Linked DNA regions of Homo sapiens: all the other regions are linked to region 1. Evidence: fine-mapped expression QTL. A gene starts in region 1. Each other region holds a variant in brackets. All regions are shown on one strand. Distances are from middle to middle.

Region 1 (5,000 bases):
CATCTGATCCATTGGCACATCTGCACAATCTACTTTTGAAATGCTTTTTAACGCATGATATCTTGGAAAGTATGTTTTAGCAACTAATGTGAAGTCTAGGCCACCAGCTCTCACCCAAGTTTGGAAAAAAATAATGATGCCCGGGCTCCACCCAGTGGTCTGGAGGACAGACTGGGCATCTTGAGTCCTCAGAACTCCGCAGGTGACTCTAACATACAGTCAGGAAGAGAGCCGCCGACGTAGGGCACTTATTTGTATTCTCAGGAAAGTACATTTAATACATCTTAAATGCATATATTTGGTGTGTCTAAGACATATTAAATATTTGTGCATGTACATATGTACGTACGTGTGTGTACACACACATAACGAATAGTCACAAACTTACCTAATCACCCAAAGGCATGAAGTTTTCTCTAAATGAAAAAAAAAAGTTTCCTTCAAAAATTGGGTGACCTAGGCTTAAGGTCAGTTCCAAGCTGACCACTCTGTCTCCCAAGGCAGCACAGTAAAAAGCCCTTCCAGAGGGTCCAAACAGTCACCTGAACCCCTGGCTCTGCCCAGTTGCCCTTGTTTATGGGTCCCACCCTGAGAAACTGACCTTTCTCTAAAAGTAATTCACAGAAACACATAATGTACAGGGAAAGAGCCATTTCAAAGCTCTTTCTAATGAGGAACCTGAGATTTGAGGAAGTGAAATGGCCAGCCTCAGATTACAGCTATTCACAAGGACACACATGAATCAATGTAGATGCCTCAATATAAATCACTCATTAGCAACACATACAATCGAGCAACTCCTGAGACAAAATGCCTGGATGAAAATCATAACACCAGTTTTTTTTTAATATAATTTTTCTTCTACAGTGTTCCATGCATAGTCGTTTTACTCAGCCTGTGAGATGATAAAACAACCAAATGCAAAGAGGAGAAAATGATCTTGGGGCATAACATACACACACACACACACGCTTAAACTCTAACAAACAAAATAATTTGTGTGGAATCTGGCTTCTCATCTGTAAGGCCAAGAAAATCAATGCCACCTCATAGTCCTTGTCACACAAGTGTCTGTTGTTAGCCTTATGCTTCCCCCCAAATCTGCCTATGCCTGTGCTACCTGGGCCACCCTCCCCACTTATCCCAGATGCCAGGTCCCTAGAGTCCTTTCAACTTGGCTCAGTATTTGCCTTCTCAAGGAAGCTCTCCAACTGCAACAGCCCCAAATGGCACATGCCTATGTCCAAGCCCGTCTCCATCACTCTGCAGGTGTTTCCATCACTCCTGGACTAGCTCCCACTCTCTGGTGAGGTCCCTGAAGGCAGGGACCCTGCCTTTTCTTTTTTTTCTTTTTTTTTTTTGAGATAGAGTCTCACTCTGTCGCCCAGGCTGGAGTGCAGTGGCACAATCTCTGCTCACTGCAACCTCTGCCTCCCAGGTTCAAGGGATTCTCCTGCCTCAGCCTCCCGAGTAGCTGGGATTACAGATGCATGCCACCATGCCTGGCTAATTTTCTGTATTTTTAGTAGAGACGGGGTTTCACCATGTTAGCCAGGATGGTCTCGATCTCCTGACCTCATGATCCGCCCACCTCAGCCTCCCAAGTGCTGGGATTTAGACCCTGCCTTTTCAATCCACATTCCTAGGCCTTAGCCTTAGTTCTCAGCCTTTGGATGTATATTTGTGCAGGGAGAGGGAAAACACTGTCCCCAGAACCTGCACAAACCCAATTCCCCAAATTTACCCCTCCTAGCCCATCCAAGGCCCTGAGGTTGAGAGGTGTGCTCCCAATAGCAGCACTGTGTATGACACAAAATCAGTATTTGCAAAGGGTCTTGAGAATGAAGCAAGGGAAGTCAGTGAAATGAATACAATAATCTTGGATCTCTGTATCTGGCTGCAATTGACACCTCATTAATTTGTCTGATAACTGCGATGCAAGGTGCTGGGCATTTTAACTTCCCAAGGCTGGGCAGAAAAAAGACAAAGGCTCTGGAATCAGAAAAACTGTAGGTGTGGATCTGGGATCTACTACTTAGTAGCTGGATACTCTTGGGTAAATGACGGAATTCCTCCTCCCTTTTATTAAAGCATAATAATAGTTCCTATTTCATGTGGCCCTTAGGAGGATTAAGTGAAAATAAGATATCTAAAAATTTTCTACAGTGTCAGGCACACAGTAAGCACTTAAAAAATGACAACTATTGTTATCATTTATTTCAGTCGTTCTCACCTCTCCAGAAAATAATTGGGGATGTCTTAATTTCTAAAACTATACTTTCAGAGAAAGACAGGATGCTGTCTCATCAATTATTCACACGTATTCACACACACACTATCTCTCTCTCTCTCTTAATTGATCTTGTTTTGAGAATCCCTCCCCGGATGGTGGTCTTCCCTTCCTCTGGGGGGTGGGGAGGGGATGCGGGTGGCAGCGGAGCCCACCCTTACCTTCAGAGAGGCGTCCCCGAGGCTGGGGCGGGGGCGGCAGCTCCTCCTTCACGCCAGGTCGCGACTGCGGAGGCCAAGTTCAGAAAGTAGGTGAGAAGCAGCGATCTCCGCCTCCTGACTACCGTGGAAAGTGAAAGAGAGGTGTGATTAAAGAGATAAGGCACCCAGAGAGGGCTACAAAAAAAAAAAAAAAGAAGAAGAAGGAAAAAAAGTAGGAACAGAAAGAAGAATGTCAGGCGTCTGGCAGCTCCTGGCTGCTAACCCCGGCCGGTGGAGGCTGCAGGTGGGCACTGCCCGCGGTCGGGCGAAGCTCCGGGTCCGGGAGTGTAGCGGTCTGGGGCGCTCTCAGTCTGGGGCGCTCCCTGGCGTAGAATCCTCCCTGACTCGGAGGTCCCGGTCTGGGGACCCTCCGGTCCGGGTGCTCCTCGCAGCCGTGCTCCAGGACCGGCTCCTCCACCCAGACGCCCCGCGTGGAGTTACCGGAGCTACTGGATCGCGGGGTCCAAAGGTTGCTGCTGGAAAACCCAGCGCCTTGCCCTTTTCCCGCGGACGGCGTGGGCCCCAGGCGTCTGGCGCTTCCTGCCCAGCCGCGCGGCGCGGGTCCCGGGAAAACCCGGGCTGTAGCCGGGTGACCTGCGGGGCCGGAAGGGGGCGCGCCCGGGCCGCTCGCAAGCACCCTGCAGGCCGCGGTTCACAGCAGAGGATGCCAGGAGGGAGGACCGCTGGCCGCAGCGGCCGCCCGGCTCTTCAGAGGAAGAGGAGGGGAGGGCTGAGGGTGGAAGAGGGGTCCCCGGGGGATGCCGAAGGTGAGAGGGGCTCCGCGTCTCAAGTACACAAATGCGCCCCAGGCTTTTTGCTTTCCCAGAAGGATGGGAGTTCACTATAGGGAAGTAATAGAGAGGGGTGCAATTGTTGAAGTTTTAATTTTTTTTAAGGAGGCCAAAGGGGAATGTGTGTTTCTAGATTTTTATTTTGTGGCAGAACTGTTATTTAACCAAAGGAAAAGGGAAACCCATAGCCGACAGGCAAAATGTTCAATTGGACAATGATTTTAATTCTTTTTACCCAATTTAGATAATTCACCACATAATAAATAAAAATATGTAATTATCTCAATAAATGCAAATAAAAGCATCTGGCAAAATTCAACACCCTTTCTGAATTAATAACGATCAGAAAACCGAGAGTAGAAATGATCTTTCTTAATCTGATAAAGAACATCTATAAGAAACCTACAGGTGACCTCATAATAGTGAAACATTTTACTTTTTCCTAAGATTAGTAATGAGATAAGGATTTTGGCTCCCACCTGGGACAACTGCTTTGCAACAAGTGAAGAAATAAAAATAAAATTAGAAAGCATAAAGATTGAGAAGAAAGAATTAAAACTACTGGTTTTAACAGAGAGCATAATTATATGTAGACCAACTTTTGAAATCTACAAAAAAAAAAACTACTGGAAATATTAAGTTTATCAAGATCATGGAATATAAAAATCAATAGCAATTCTATATATTAGAGATGGAAACTTGAAAAGTGAAGTTTGTTAAAAATGCCATTTACCATAGCATTTAAAAATCAAAATACCAAAGTATAAATTCATTGGATAATATATGAGATATCTCCTGTGAAAACTACAAAATATTGCTAACAGAGATGAAACATCTAAGTAATAAAGGGATATACCACGTTTACGGATTGGAAGACTTAAGACATCTATTCTCCACACTGTATATTTTTAGACTCTATATATTACAGAATCTATATATTTAATACAATTCAATCCAAATCCCAGGAAAATTTTTCAAAGAAATTAAGAAGCTGTTTCTAAAATTCATATGAAAATGCAAATAATCTAGGATTGTCCGGACAGAGACGGAGTTTTGCTCTTCTTGCCCAGGCTGGAGTGAGTGCAATGACGCGATCTCGGCTCACTGCAACCTCCGCCTCCCGGGTTCAAGCGATTCTCCTGCCTCAGCCGCCCGAGTAGCTGGGATTACAGGCATGCACTATCACGCCTGGCTACTTTTGTATTTTTAGTAGAGACAGGGTTTCTCCGTGTTGGTCAGGCTGGTTTTGAACTCTCGACCTCAGGTGATCCACCCATTTCAGCCTCCCAAAGTGTTGAAATTACAGGGGTGAGCCACCTGCCCGGCCTGTCTGGGCAATCTTGACAAAGATGAACAAAGTTGAGAGACTTATACTGACTTGAGGATTTATAATAAGGCAATAGTAATTATGGCAATGTGATATTCACAGAAACATACAAACATACAAAATAGAAAGTAGACTAATAGATCCACACATATCTAGTCAATTGATTTTTTTAACAAAGCACCATGTCAATTCAGTGGGGAAAAAACAGTCTTTCACAAACATTGCTGGAACAGCTGGGTACCTCTACAGAAGAAGCAGCAGCAGAAAAAAGAACTTTGTCCTTGCCTTGTTCTATATACAAGTATCAATTCACAATAGACCATGGACCTAAACATAAAAGCTAGAACCGTAAATATTTCATAAAAATACAGAGAAGACCCTTGAACAGGCAA
Region 2 (5,205 bases), 53 kb before region 1:
AATGCTGACCTCTTTGATCAGGTTTTGATTTAGTTGCTCCTTCCCTGACAAACCATAAGAGGCAATATGGAACACACATGTGACATCTGTGTCAAGGCTTTCTCTATGTCAGAGAGGTGGCGGATGTCTCCATGTACAAACTTGATTCCTTCTGGAATGGTTTGAGCAGGACTGCTGATGTCAAATAGAATTACGTGGACTCCCTTTTGGTTCAGAGCATGGCCCAGGTGGAAACCAAAATAGCCACCTCCTCCTGTAATGAGGAAAGTTTCCTTTGGAGATCTTTGGGGGTCCATATGTGGCAGTCAAAAGACAACTGGACAGCAGCAGGAAGAAGGGCGTGGCCTTCAGACTGAAGAAGGCCGGCTGGCCCAGGCCTTGGGAGCCACCTGCTGCCTCTACTTGGGCACTGGAGCCCTCAGACTGGCCTCTGGTAAGTTATTTTAATTATGTTCTATTCACAGATAAGGTCTTACTCTTTCCAGCATAGTTAAAGGGGTGGGCAATTCCATATGTCCACAAGCCTTCCCAAATTGTAAAGTATACAAATCAAATGGTTCTCAAAAGCTAAAAAAGTAGTTTATAACCTTAAAACATTTAGCAAACCTAGTATCTGACCCACATAATTTAGACCATATATTTACATATGAAGACATTTGCACTTTACCAATTATCTTTAAAACTGTTTTTATGTTTCAAAGATTAAAGTCACATGAACTAAAAGGCATTACAGCTTTTATTTCTCCTTGAAAAATATTTGATCTAAGTGTTTATTTTTCTTTAGGTCAATGAATTAGAGCTGTTTTATATAACCATCACACACATAACACATATGATTACACAGACAGACAGAAGAAGATCCAGTAGTTGTAAGATTTTTCATTTGGAGCCGAGCACAGTGGCTCATGCCTGTAATCCCAGCACTTTGGGAGGCCAAGGTGGGCAGATCACTTGAGGTCAGAAGTTCGAGACCAGCCTGGCCAACATGGTGAAACCCCATCTCTACTAAAAATACAAAAATTAGCTGGGTGTTTTGGTGTGCACCTGTAATCCCAGCTACTCGGGGGGCTGAGACAGGAGAATCGCTTGAACCCGGGAGGCAGAGGTTGCAGTGAGCAGAGACTGCAGCATTGCACTCTAGCCTGGGTGACAGAGCAAGATGCTGTTTCAAAAACAAAAAAAGATTTTTTCATTTGCCTATCTCCTAATTGGGTCATTGGCCTCAGGGTGGAGTCCTTCAAGAAGCAGGGCTAGGAAAGCATGCAGTTTTCAGGGCCCAAGAAACAGGCATAGCTGGAAAACAAAAACAGATTTTGGGAGGGACCTATCTGTTTTTAATTTCGGGGTTCCATAAGGAAAACAGAGCTTTCTTCCCAAAATGGGGTCTCTAGCACCTTCTCTGTTTTTCCCAAGGAGTCCCATGCTCTCACAAGTTATCTTAGGGCCTCTCATGCGTGCACCGAGAATGGCAAGACTAAATGGAAAAAAATAATTCAGTTGACTGAGAAAAAGCCTTTTTCCAGAAAAACAAGATCCAAGGAAAAAAAAAAGGCCTTTTAAATATACCAATACCTTGGATATCCACTTTTAATTAAGCTGAGCACTCTTTAAGAAAGTCTTTTTAAGTCCCCTGTTAACCGACTTTAGCCAGGCCACGCGGCCAATATTTCTGGCTTTTGAACTTTATGGAAAGTAACCTCACAGATGAAACCAACAAGCCTCAACTAAGGTTATGACTTAACTGTGAGTGTATGAGGTATTTTCAAAGTAGTGGTAAGCAGTTTTTACAAAATCTGGAATCTTTAAAGGTGACTCTGAGAAAGGAAGATTTAAGAAAGGAAGCTAGAAGTTGTTCACAGAGGGGAAGAAAATCAGCAAATGGTAAAAGTCACACGATATTAACCAGAAAGTACTCATTCCCTAAGCCAGAATTGAACCCAGGCTGCCGTTATAAAATGGCAGAGACCAAAACAAAGTATTGCCACATGGTTACAATGTCAAACTCCCAAGAACATAAAACAAGATGGAGACCCGAAGCTGGTTGCTGACCATTTGCCTGGCTGGCTTGAACAGTAGGCTTATGGGGTCCTAGGCCCATATTCTATCCTAAGGTACTCCTCTTCATGCAGAACCATATAGAAAGTCACGCCAAGCACACCAGATTGGTTACAGCTTAAGACTGGCCTCATAAATTCTTTTTTCCATTAATCCAAACTTCACAGAGGATATAAACAGTGATTTTATCATCCATTCAATCATTTGTACAGGGAGAGGGAAGCCAGAAATCCGACTGGTAAAAACTTTTATCCTTTTGCCGGCATGTCAGACTTCTGGGTTCCCTTCCCCTGAGCTCGGTTTTAAGCCAAGCAGCTTAAGGTTTGGGGTAATTAAGTTTTCCCTGTTTGGGGGGTGCACCCAAGGGGAGTGTCCTGTGGTATGGGGACACAATTACCCATCTGTGAAGAGAGGACAGAGGAGGCAAAAGGGGAAAGAAGGCTTTTTCTTTTTTCCTCAAAGGAATCCCAGTGATTCAGGAGGCATTTGAGAGAAACACACGCTGAAGATGATTGGTTACCCATCTAGAAAGAAGGGAAAAAGGCATCCTTAGTTTCTTTATCTTCCCAGCAAATACCTGGGGTATGTGAGGGAGAGAAAGAAGCATCCCCTTTTCTTTCTTCCATCCTTATATTCCCAAGTCCTAGTGACCTCAGCAGGGTGCAACCCGTGGGTGCCAATGCAGCTTTTCACCCATGTTAACAGGGGGCCTGGGAGTGGGAACTGTCCGCATTTACCTACGCGCTGCCTTTCCCCTGCTGT[C/T]GGTAACCTTTGAGTTCCCTAGATCTTGTCTATGCCATGGATGCGAGCCTGACCTCCAACCATAAAGCGGGAAGGCCTAATTGGCTTGAATTAGTCATGCTTGGGGGCAGGAAGATGCCACCAGGCATGGGTGGAGAGAGGCCATGACTTTAGTCTCATACTTATGTCTCTCTGGGCCTGATAAACTTTGCATACCTCACATGGCTCATGCTGCTCTGAACTCTTTTTCTTTTCTCACTGGGAACTGTCATCTTACAGATGAATATGAGATGATTTTTGTCCTTCAAGGGTTAACAGTTGAGTTGAGGGAGCAGAATCTCTAAAGGTCACTTCTTATACTGTAATGCTAGACAAAGATACACAGCAGAACACAGGAGAGGAGCTCTTAGCCAACCTGAGGACTGAAGGATGGCTTCTCGAGATAATTCACTGAATTTTCATTAATTTTTTTTAAACCTTACGTGTAGATGGTGAAGGCGATGAGCTCTAATATTTTCACGCTCTTCTCTAGACTTTCAATCATCTGTCCCCCACAACCTGCTGCTTGAGTCTCCCCTCAGGACATAGTTTCTCTAGCAGCTCACTTACATGGTGGTTGTTTTCCCTCCCAGACTCCAGGTACCATTGGTTTCCAGCCACTGTACCTCCCTCCTCCCTAAGAACCCCCAGCTTCAAATATCATGTCCTTGGGCTATCCCACCCAGTATCCCTACTTGTTGCAGTCATCCACAAAGCCCTGGGACACTCTGCTTTATTCCCTGAAGAGTTTAGTTCTGGGCTTACTCTTACTCTTCAGAACTCTTCCTGCTTTGATTCTTGGTATTAGCATTGATATAGATGATCCGTTTAACGTCCCCGTCTCTCAGTTCTTTGACTTCCTCTCCTCTAAAGCTCTTGTATTCCATCCTTACTTCACTATTTATTCCTGTAATCATAACCTAGACTTGTCATTGCTAATAATTGCTATGCCTCTATATTCCCAATTGAAAGCAACCCACTCCCTTGGCAATTACCTCCTGTCACCCAACTTACTTTCCAAAATATTCAAATTCCAGCACTCATTTAGTAACAAAAGAAATTTACACTGATCCTATCAAATTTTCAATGATCCCCTTCTTGCATTTTCCAAATTAAATTCTATTATTATTCATTATCAGTCCTTGAATAGTACAAAAAATTATTTGTATTCATTTAGTTAAATTTCTTTATATCTTTCATTAATATTTTTTTAAATTCTCCACTAGAAATGTATTTCTAGTGGAAAATTAATGCATTCTCACATTAATGCATTTTCAATGCATTCAACACATTAGGAAATCTCCTTCCTAAAGACCATCTACCTAGAACTTGCTCTTCTGCTTAAATATGGCAAATGCACAATTTCCAGCATTGGATTTCCATTTATCATCAGTCTGGAGATCTGGAGATGCCTTCCACCATTTTCCTTAGCTGGATTCCATTTCCCTGAAGCCCAAAGTACTATATGTTCCCTTTATGGAGGACCGCTTCTTCCAGGAGATCTCAGACAAAGGGACATGGCAGGAAATATCTTGAGGCCTTACTTGTCTGAAAATATCTATTTTACCCTCATATTTGAATAATTGTTTGACTCAGTAGAGAAATTTAGGCAATACATAATATTTTCTTCCAAAATGTTAAGGCAGTTCTGTCTCCATTTTGCTGAGTAATTAATTGGTGGGCTCTTTCAATCTGGAGCTTCATATCATTCTATTTTGAGATGCTTTCTTATTTCCAAAAATGTTATTAGACTAATTTGCAAATTCTTCTATTTTTTCTCTATTTTCATTTATTTAGCTCCTTGTTTTACATTCTGGGTAACACTTCATTATCCTCCAACCCTGATATTGTCTTTTCCACTTTAGCTAATTCATTTCTAATTTCCAACTCATCTTTATTATGCTCTGATGTAATATCTTTTCTTGTCTCTCTGAAAATATTAAAGTTTGTTCTTTAAATATGTTTTTCCTTTGGCTTATCTCTGTTATCTCCAAGTTCCATTTTGTTATTTGTTAATCATGGCCTTTCATAGTAAAGGATTTTCTTAAATATGTAAGGATTTTTCACTGTCTACTAATATTTAATAATGGGATGCTATGGCAAAGGTTTTGCACACATACACACAACTACAGACAAATCTTACTTAGAAGTATATATACAAAGTTCTAAATAAAATATTAGCACATAAAATACATATTTTTAAAATTCATTAGGATTGCATAACTGCAAAGTTGGTTTGATATTATGAAAACATTAACATTCTCTATGGAATATGAATGGTCTATATGGTCTAAAACTATATGGTCACCTCCAAAGTTGCAGAAAAGGTTTTGAACAAAAATAAACACACACTTATGTTTAAAAAAAACA
Region 3 (5,194 bases), 100 kb before region 1:
GGGAGCAATGGTGGGGAAAGTGGGCATCCAATTCCCCATGAACCAGGTGAATGCTGTGCAGAATAACCAGGTTAGAGTCACATTGGAAGAATGGACCATTAGGGGCTTTACTGCATGGGGCAGAAGACGAGGTGGAGACAGAGAAGGTATCACCTTCATCAGGTGCACCAGGAGCAGTGGACATCTTGGTAGGGTTAGGGAGAATGGGTTTACATTTTTATTTTTAAATTAACATACAATAAAATTAGCTTGTTTGATTTACAGTTGTGTGCATTTAAATACGGATGTAAATTCACATAATCACCAAGACAATCAGGTTACATGCTCTTTCTTTGAGACCCGCCCTCCTCCATCCCTAACTCCTGGAAACCAATAATCTGTTCTGTCACTGTTTTGACTTTTTGAAAATGTCATAGAAATGGAATCATGTAACCTTTAGAGATAAGCTTTTTCTACCCAGCATACTGCATTGAGATTTATCCAAGCTGGTGCATGTCTCAGTGGTGAATTCCTTTGTATTGCTGAGAAGTATTTCATGGTTTGCTTGTACAACTATTTGTTAATTAATTCACCCTATACCAGTTATCAATTTATCACCAGTTATCAATGTATTACCTCACAGCTCTGAATTCACCATTCAGTACCTGCTGTGTGTAATGGATTGAATTTTTGAAGCATTCATCCTATACAGTGAGCATAGTATTCACCTCTTTGGTACAGGGAGTTGGACAAGCATTACAGGAGGGTCCGTCTGGTTCCAGCTGCTGTGTTCTGTTTTTTTTTCTCACTTGTGCTGCACCATCAGGCAGCAGTGTGTGTGTGTAGACATCTGTTGGTGCTCTGCACTAGCTATATCCAGAGGAAGCCGTTGCTCAGTGACCTCGCAGTACTAGCTTAGGCCAGGTGACCACCTCCCAATATCTTCCTGATGTGGACACTGTGCACTCCAGGCCGCATGCCCACAGTGGCATTCTGAATGCCCTGTGTACCCGCATATCAACTACAGCTCGCCTGCATCCTAAAGCAGTCATGGCCTGGCCATGCTGCATGTCTGCCCACCAGCCATGGCTTGACTGCACCTGACAGGTTTGCTTCCAGCTTTCCCAGCAACTGTGAACTAGCTCTGACCCAGGCACGTAAGAGACCTTCCTTGCCATTCAGTGGGCTACACCACACTGCTTCTAGTGATGTCTGAACCCCAGTCTTGGGGAGGGGACCACTTGCAACTTTGTCTTTCTACTATCTCTCAGCCCTGAGATACTCTTTGGAGTTCTATTCATGTCCTTATAATCAGTCTCTCATCACAGCCAAATAATCATTTATATCATAATATCCCTTTTTAAATTACTACATGATTTCTGTCTTTTGATTGGACTTTAGCTGACACATACTGGTTGAAAGTCCTTGAGTTTTTCTAGGTATTAGTTATTATGAGTAGAGCCACAATAAACATTTGTGTATTGGATTTTGTGTGAACGTAAGTTTTTATTTCTCTGGGGTAAATATCTACAAGTAGGATGTTTTGGGCATCTAGTAAGGAAGTCACATTATAAGGACTTGTTAAATTGTTTTGTAGGGTGGCTGCACTATTTTGCACTCTCACCAGTAGTATATGAGAGTTCTAGTTTCTCTACATCATCACCATTTCGTGTTGTTAGGTTTCTTTTCTTTTTCTCTATGTGCCCCATGGTGTGTGTGTGTGTGTGTTTTCTCCTTGTGGCTTTAATTTCCATTTTCCCAGTGGATGGTGCTGTTGCACATCTTTTTATGTGCCTGTTTGCCATCTGTCTGTCCTCTTTAGCAAAATGTCTATTCAAGTTTTTGCTCCTTTTTTAATTGGTAGCTACTTGTTATTATTGAGTTTAGAGAAATCTTTATAAACTCTCAGCACAAGTCCTTTATTGGACTTGTGATTTTGAAATAATTTTTGTCAATTTAAAGCTTGTTTTTTTTTTTCATCCTTTTAGCAGTGGTTTTCTCGGAAAAAGTGGTTTTAACTTTGTTAAACTCCAACTTTTTTTTTCTCTACGGATCATGCTTTTGGTGTTACATCTAAGAACTCTTTTTCTAATCCTAGGTCATGTTTTCTTCTAACAGTTTTATAGATTTAGGCTTTACATTGAGATCTATGGCCTATTACAAGTTAATTTTGTATAAGCTGTGAGCTTCATCTTATTGCATATGTATGTCCAATTGATGCAAAACCATTTGTTTAAAACTCTATTCTTTATTGAATTGCCTTTGAAAATTTGTCAAAATCAATAGGCCATATTTGTGTGGATGTATTTCTAGACTTTCTACTCAGTTCCATTGATCTATTGCTTTGTTAATATCACACCATTTTGGTTGCTGTAACTTTTTATTGATTCATAAAATCGTCTAGCATGACTCCTCCAACTTTATTTTCTTTTCCAAATAGCTTTGGTTTTTCTAGTTTATTCGCTTTCCCACATATATTTTAGAATTAGTTTGCCTATAATCTACAAAAAATTCTGCTGGAATATCAGTTGGAATTGCGTTAAACCTCTTAATCAATGTAAAGGGGATTGTTGATTTGACAATATGTTGAATCTTTGTATCACCAAACATGCTATGCTTCTCTCTTTATTTAATTGTTCTTTAATTTTGCTCATAAGTATTTCATAGTTTTTAGCTTATGGAACATCCACACATTCTGTTCATTTATACATGAATCTCCCTCCCTCCCTCCCTCCCTCTCTTTCTTTCTTTCTTTCTTTCTTTCTTTCTTTCTTTCTTTCTCTCTTTCTTTCTTTCTTTCTTTCTCTTTCTTCCTTTCTCTTTCCTTCCTT[T/CCTTT]CTTTCTTTTTTCTCTCTTTCTTTCTCTCTTATTTCTTTCTCTTTCTTCCTTTCCTTCCCTATCCTTCCTTCTTTCCTTCCTTTCCTCTTTCTTTTTTGACCTATTATAAATGGTAATGTCTGTAACATCTGGTTTTCAATTGTTTCTTAATAGAGATAGAAATACATTTGATTTTTACGTTGTTAATCATGTATCCTAAGAACTTGCTAAACTCACTTATCAGTTCTAGGAATATTTTTATAGCTTTCTTGGATATTCTACATAGAAAATTACTTTTTAGAAAAAAAGGAGAGATTGTTTCTTTCTTTCCAAACTGCATGCATGTTATTTCTTTTCCTCGTCTTATTGCACTGGTGAAAACTTTCATACAAGGTTGTATAGTATTCTGCGAGTAAGTATCCTTGCCTTGCTTCCCATCTTATAGAGAAAACATACATACAGTCTTTCACCATTTAGTATGATTTTTTCATCTATAGTTTGTTTGTTGTTGTTTTTAGAGCCCCTTATCATGATGAGAAAATTCCCTTCTATGCCTAGTTTGCTGAGAGGTTTTATGACGAGACGATGGTGAATTTTGTCAAATATATTTTTGGAATTGGTTCATATGATCATGTCTTTGTTCTTCCTTACACTGTTAATATAAAGAATTACACTGAAATATTTTAAAATATGAAGCCTGCCCTGAATACCCATGATAAGCTCCACTTGGTTGTGATGCATTATTCTATTTATATATTACTAGGTTCAATTTGCTAATATTTTCTTGAGTATTTTTGTGTCAATGTTCATGAAGAATGTTGGTCTATAGTTGTCTTATAATTTTTTTTGTTTGGTTTTGGTATTAGAAAAATTCTGGACTCATAATAATTTGCATAACTTAGGAAATGTTCCTTCTTCTGTTTTCTGAAAAAAATTGTGTAGGATTCACATTTTTTTTTTCCTTTAAATGTTTGATAGAATTAGGCAGTGAAACCATCGGGGTCTGAAGATTTTATTTTTGGAAATTTAATAATAGGAATTAATTTTTTTAACAGTTATGACCAATTAGGTTATTTATTTAATATTGGATAAGTATTTTTAGCTTGTGGTTTTTGAGCATTTATCCATTTCATTTAGGTTGTCAAATATGTATTTATACAGTATCCATAACATTTCCTTATTCGTTTAAGATGTGCAGGATCTGTATTGATATCTCTTATCTCACTACTAATACTGGTAATTTGTGTCTTCCTTCTTCTTCTTTTTTTTTTGGTCAGTCTTGCTAGGAGTTTTTCAGTTTTATTGATGCTCTCGAAGAACCAGGTTCCTGTACTATTGATTTTCTTTATTGTTTTATGTTATTCAATGGCAGTGGTTTCTGCTCTCAAATTTATTATTTTTTTTTGGCTTCCTAAGGTGGAAGTTTAGATTATTAATTTATATATTTTCCTCTTTTAACATAAGTATTTAATATTATATACTTGCCCTTAAGCATGGCTTTAGTCTCATCTTGCAAATTTTGATATGTTGCATTTTCATTTCCATTCATTTGAAAATATCATTTCATTTGCTTTGAGACTTCCATTTTTATCCATAGATTATTGAGAAATGTGTCACTTAATTTCCAAATGTTTTGAGATTTTTCCCACCATCTTTCTCTTAATAATCTCTAGTCTGAATTCATTATAAATCCATTATAAATACAGAATATAACTTTGTACAATTTCAATTTCTAAATTCTTGTTATTGTTTGTTTTACAATCTAGGATACGGTATATCTTAGCACATGGTCGGTGTGTACATCAAAAGATTGTGTATTCTGCAATCATTGGGTGGAACATTCTATAAATGTCAAGTAGATCTAGAAAACAACAATTAAGTAGTGTTGTTCTATATTCTTCTTCTTTTTTTTTCTGAGACGGAGTCTCACTCTGTCACCCAGGCTGGAGTGCAATGGCACGATCCGGCTCACTGCAACCTCTGCTTCCTGGGTTCAGGAGATTCTCCTGCCTCAGCCTCCTGAGTAGCTGGGATTACAAGCACGCGCCACCATGCCTGGCTAATTTTTTGTATTTTTAGTAGAGACGGGGTTTCACCGTGCTGGGCAGGCTGATCTCAAGCTCCTGACCTCGTGATCCGCCCAACTCGGCCTCCCAAAGTGCTGGGATTACAGGCATGAGCCACCACGCGCAGCCTATATTCTTGATAAATTTCTGTTTACCATTTTATCAATACTTGAGAATAATATTCAAGTCTCCAACTACAGTCGTGGATTTGTCTATTTCTTCTTTTAGTTCTGTCAGTTTTGCTTCATGTATTTTGAAGCACTGCTGTTAGGTGCATACACATTTAATTAAGACTGTTATGTCCTGTTGGTAAATTTGTCCTTTTATCATAATGTAAT
Region 4 (5,199 bases), 290 kb after region 1:
GAAAAATATTTGCAACATGTATTACCAATCAAGGTTTAATGTTTATAATAAATAAACAATTCTCACAAATCCAAGAGAGAATACTGCAAAAGACATGAATAAACAGTCCACAGAAGAAAAAAGAAAGAAGCAAAAAGCAATAAGCAAAAAGCAAAAAGCCAATAGACGTGAAAAACATGTTCAAGATTACTAATAACCAAAGAAATGTGAATTAAGATAATAGAAAAATGCCATGTTTTGGTAGAGACTAAACGATTTCTAATATTCCAGTAAGTGAGGTATAAGAAACCAGGTACATCTATTACAAGTGTAAACTATTAAAATCTGTTTTGGAGGATAAAGCGCCAAACTTTTAAAACCTATATTCTATTTGGCTTAGCAATATTATTTCTAGTTTATCCTAAACAGATAATTGCCCAAGTAAACAGTGCTATATGTAAAGTGTACGAATTTTTTTCTTTTTTTTTTTTTTTGGTGACACAGAGTCTTGCTCTGTCACCCAGGCTGGAGTGCAATGGCACAATCTCGGCTCACTGCAACCTCCACCTCCCGGGTTCAAGCAGTTCTCCTGCTTCAGCCTCCCTAGTAGCTAGGATTACAGGCACAGGCCACCATGCCCAGCTAATTTTTTTGTATTTTTACTAGAGACGGGGTTTTGCCGTGTCAGCCAGGGTGGTCTCGAACTCCTGACCTCAGCTGATTCCCCCCACTTCGGCCTCCCAAAGTGCTGGGATTACAGGCATAAGCTACCACACCCGGCCAAGTACAATGATTTTACACATTATTTGCAATTTTGAAAAATATGGACCAATTCTAAGGGCCCATTGTGGAGGATGTATAGTCCAGGTGCTTCCTCGGAAGATGGCCCTTGGCAGCCACTGGTCTAGGAGAGGACACCGGCACCATGGGGTTCAACCAGGGTGGATCTCACACCTCCTTCTTGGCACATTAAGGCATGGCATTTCTCCCTCTTCCCTCACAAGAGGTTGTAAAGCCTGGTGCCACTACAAAAACCATTTTGCCACCATAAAGGGAAAGAATCTTCAAACAAAACCAACACACAGAGGAGGGGACATACAGGGAAATGCCAAATATTATGCTAGTAGTATGGAACCCACTCAGAAGCCACTCTTTCTTTGAACTTCAGTTACATGAGATGGTAAATTTATGTAAGCCAGTTTGGGCCACTTTCTGATACTTTCAGCCAAAAGCCACATGATAAAGCCATCACCAGGGAACTGAATAAATACATTATGACACAATCTTACAATAAAATGCCATGCAAGTGATTTATTCAAGAATAAAATACCATGCAATGGATTTTTCAAGAAAGTATGCCCTATATACAGTGCCACAAATAGATGTCCATTAGAAGTCGTTAAGAGAGAAAAGTGTTAAGGAATGATATGTGTGATATCACCCTATTTAGTTAAAAAGGCAAATTGAGCTACAGATAGAGATATAAATTTGATATAAATTAGAATCAGAAGGGAAGAGGGAGCTTTTATTTCTTCCTTTACATACTTCTGATTTTTTGAGGTTTTAAATAAGTATCCCTTACTTTATATATATAAGTATACAAATATATTTCAGCTTTGGACCTCTGAAGTACTCTTGGTAGCATCATTTTAAAAATCATGATATAACACATAATGATGCCTAGTCTTCAAATATCTTAGTGTTTTTTTTTACATAAGATCAATTTACATAACCTTATCCTTATTTAACTTTTAATCCTTTTTGACAGTTCCATGTCTATCTTGAAAAAGAATGTGTCTTAATCTCTAGAAGTAAAAATAAATAAGAGCTACCTCTTAGATACACACCTTCCCCAAGCCACCCCAACCCTCAAGCCTGAGATTCCCACCTAGAAAATAAAGACAGCCATGGTATATCTTCATGAGTGTCATGAGGGAGGGGTGAACACAGGTGTTCAAAGTTTCCAGCACAGGGCCTGGGACAAAATGACTCTTCAGTGGTAGTTTTTGTTGCTATTCAATGTCCTCAGAGTAAAGGGGCCCCTTCTGGAAATTTATTTTTGCTTGGAGGTTCGGTGAACCTTACCCTGGCTTTCTATCTCTTCAAACACC[C/T]TAGAAGCAGAAAGAATTCCATGGGGCCAACTCTGGGCCTTCCCACTCTGAAAACGACACAGTCACAAACTACAGGCCCAAGGAAGCCAGGGCGGGCCCTTTAAAACCTTACCCTCATTGACTCAAGCAGCTTGAGAAGGAGCCTTGGCAGTCCTCTGGCCACTGTAATCATCTTTCACATTAGTCGAGACAAATGCCTTGGAATTTTCCTTAAACTGGGTGTCACCTCCCATTTTTGATATGAAAAGATACAAGTGAAGAGCTGCCAATGGGTGGAGTCTTGGGCCGGGTCCCCGGATACGTCAGGCTACTTTCATTTTCCAGATATGGGAGAAGAGAAAAGTAGGCCAGGCCAGGGCTGCAGTGTCCCCAAGAGGTCAGCAGCTCCAGGCTCTGAGCCTTGCTTCTGGGCTGCCTTCCAGCCCCACTCCATTCCAGTTTGCAGTAATGAATGTTATACACACACTCATACACACACACACACACACACGCACACACACATACACACACACATGCACACTGATTTTTTTTAGGAGCCGTCAATGAAGTTTTAAGTTGTTGACAATTATTGTTGGTCATCAGGCCAGCAATTCTTCTGAGTGAAGTGTTGAACAAGGCTGGGCCTCAGAGCTACACAGATGTATGGCTTCCTGAAAGCCATACATCTGTGTGTGCCTGGGTAACTTGAGAAATAGTACTATGCATGTGATAAGTGTGCCACAAAGACTTAGAAAGATAGAAAACTCCTCACAGATTTTTCACTTAAGGAGGTAATGTCCTCTTGAAAATGTTATTAAGTACAAATTAAACAAATGTTCAAGGTGCACCTACCTGACACACCAGGGGCGCCTGACAAATATTTCTGGAATGACAGAATGATTCTTTGCTCTGTGGTCTGAAGCAAATGACTTGCCTTGGTTGGGTCCCAGTCTCCTTTCTGTGAATAGAGGTAATCACACCTCCTCCATGGGTGGTGAAGGCTGAGGAAAAACGCTTTGTCCAGGAGGGTTGTGCTGCGAATAGGAGAGCAGGTTTGGGGGAGGTGGCTAACCTTGGCACCCACCTGGGCTCGCAGAAGCCAGTGGGAGGTATGAGATAAACTGCCCAGGGACCTCCTCAGCCACCCTTACATCTTATCTGCCCTGTAGCCACGTCCTCCCCTGCAGTCAGGCTGCTTATCAGGGGCTGACACCAGGCGCAGCCAACTTTGTGCTTTGATTCTTGCCAGGTTTCTTCTGTGGAAGGGGTTTCCAGCCCCCGCACCCCCTTAGCCAAAGTTTGCCCTTTAAAGTCAATCTCCGGTCACACATCTCCAGTAAGCCTTCAAACCTCACTCCAGAGCCGACTCTCTCCTCCATCCTCCCCTATGCCTTCTGCCCCCACACTAAGGCAGCAGGTTGCATTCGCCGGGCACTGCCCTGACAGGAGGGCAAGCACAGGATGGAGTCGAGAAACCAGCATAGTCACCAAGCTGATTTTTCAAAATGTGAATCTTAAAAACCTTGACTTTTAAGTCTGCCACTTGAGAGAGAAGAATTTTGGTTTTATTTTTGCTTTTATTTGTTGGAACTCTAGAACATATCCTTATATATCAAGAGCCTGGAGCATAACGTTATGCCATAAACCAGAGAGTTCCTGTTCAAGGGAAGTACACGTTTGAACCAGCACATAACACAATGAACACTGAGGGAAGATGACTAGGGTTGGGGCAGAAATGGAAGTTAGGGAGTAGGGGGCATGAGAAAACGAGGAAATTGTGTTGATTTCCAGGCTCCAGCCAGAGACTGTAAACCTTGGATTGAAGCCCACTCCACGATGGAGCCTGTGGATGGGCAACAAGGGGGTTGGCAGTGGGTAGGGGAGGGAGGGATACCTGGGAAGATGGGCTTGAGGGAAGTCTCAAGGTTCAAATCACCCCAGCAAGCTACAGAAGGGTTTTGGAAAGTTCCTGGGCTATTCCTACAAAGCACGTGCCCCACGGACCCATGCAGGGCCCATGCAGGACACACAGAAATCAACAGCACAAGGTGCAGTGACCAGGTCCATATCACTAAGCAGCTCCAATTGTGGGCAGCAATGAGAGAAGAGAGGAAAAGAAGAAAGGCAAAGAATCTTGAGCTCTTTCAAACCCTTAAGTAACCATATGTAGGACTGAGAGGACCTGAGTGACCCTGAGATGGTGTATTAGTCTGTTCTCACACTGCTCATAAAGACATACCCAAGACTGGGTAATTTATCAAGGAAAGAGGTTTAATGGACTCACAGTTCCACATGGCTGGGGAGGCCTCACAATCATGGCAGAAGGCAAATGAGGAGCAATGTCACATCTTACATGGCTGCCATGGCTTCAGGCAAGAGAGTGTGTGCAGGGGAACTGCCCTTTATAAAACCATCAAATCTCATGAGGCCTATTCACTACCTTGAGAACAGTATCAGGGAGACTGCCCCCATGATTCAGTTATCTCCACCTGGCCTCACCCCTTCACCCCCTTTTTTTTTTTTTTTCTAAGACAGAGTCTCGCTCTGTCACCCAGGCTGGAGTGCAGTGGGCGATCTCAGCTCACTGCAACCTCCGCCTCCCGGGTTCACGCCATTCTCCTGCCTCAGCCTCCCAAATAGCTGGGACTACAGGTGCCTGCCACCACGCCCAGCTAATTTTTTGTATTTTTAGTAGAGACAGGGTTCCACCGTGTTAGCCAGGATGGTCTCGATCTCCTGACCTCGTGATCTGCCCACCTCGGCCTCCCAAAGTGCTGGGATTACAGGCGTGAGCCACCGTGCCCGGCCTGGCCTCACCCTTGACAAGTGGGAATTATTAAAATTCAAGGTGAGAGTTGGGTGGGGACACATTCAAACCATACCAGCTGGAAAAAACTGAATTTTTCCACCATAAGCAGAAGTAGGGATTCATGAGCTAAGTTAAGATCAATTATAGAGAAAGAAAGTCCCATTTTGGTGTAATTATGACTAAATGTCACACTGCTATCTTCATGCTGGCCCCTTACCTTCCCTGGATGACCAGCCATCCTAGTTTGCCCAAGATAGTCCTGGTTTTAGGATTGAATGTCCTGCAGCCCAAGAGATCCCTCAGGCCTGGGCACACTGGGAT

Evidence for each region.
Region 2: its variant is fine-mapped to the expression of IL18R1 in whole blood (TOPMed, PIP above 0.99).
Region 3: its variant is fine-mapped to the expression of IL18R1 in whole blood (INTERVAL, PIP above 0.99).
Region 4: its variant is fine-mapped to the expression of IL18R1 in transverse colon (GTEx, PIP 0.99).

The regions. Positions count from the first base shown.
Region 1 is chr2:102,353,852-102,358,851 of GRCh38, reverse strand. It overlaps IL18R1 (interleukin 18 receptor 1), which reads right to left and starts at 3,056. Exons shown (of 11, transcript NM_003855.5): 1 at 2,452-3,056. RefSeq lists silencers at 3,002-3,061, 3,082-3,191 and an enhancer at 2,786-3,287.
Region 2 is chr2:102,406,334-102,411,538 of GRCh38, reverse strand. It overlaps the pseudogene SDR42E1P5. Among named protein-coding and RNA genes, the nearest start is that of IL18RAP, 14 kb to the left of the region's middle. The variant C/T (reference allele first, on the strand shown) is at 2,818.
Region 3 is chr2:102,457,214-102,462,407 of GRCh38, reverse strand. No RefSeq gene overlaps it. Among named protein-coding and RNA genes, the nearest start is that of SLC9A4, 13 kb to the left of the region's middle. The variant T/CCTTT (reference allele first, on the strand shown) is at 2,811.
Region 4 is chr2:102,067,537-102,072,735 of GRCh38, reverse strand. It overlaps a transcript of IL1R1 not described here. Among named protein-coding and RNA genes, the nearest start is that of IL1R1, 73 kb to the left of the region's middle. The variant C/T (reference allele first, on the strand shown) is at 2,091.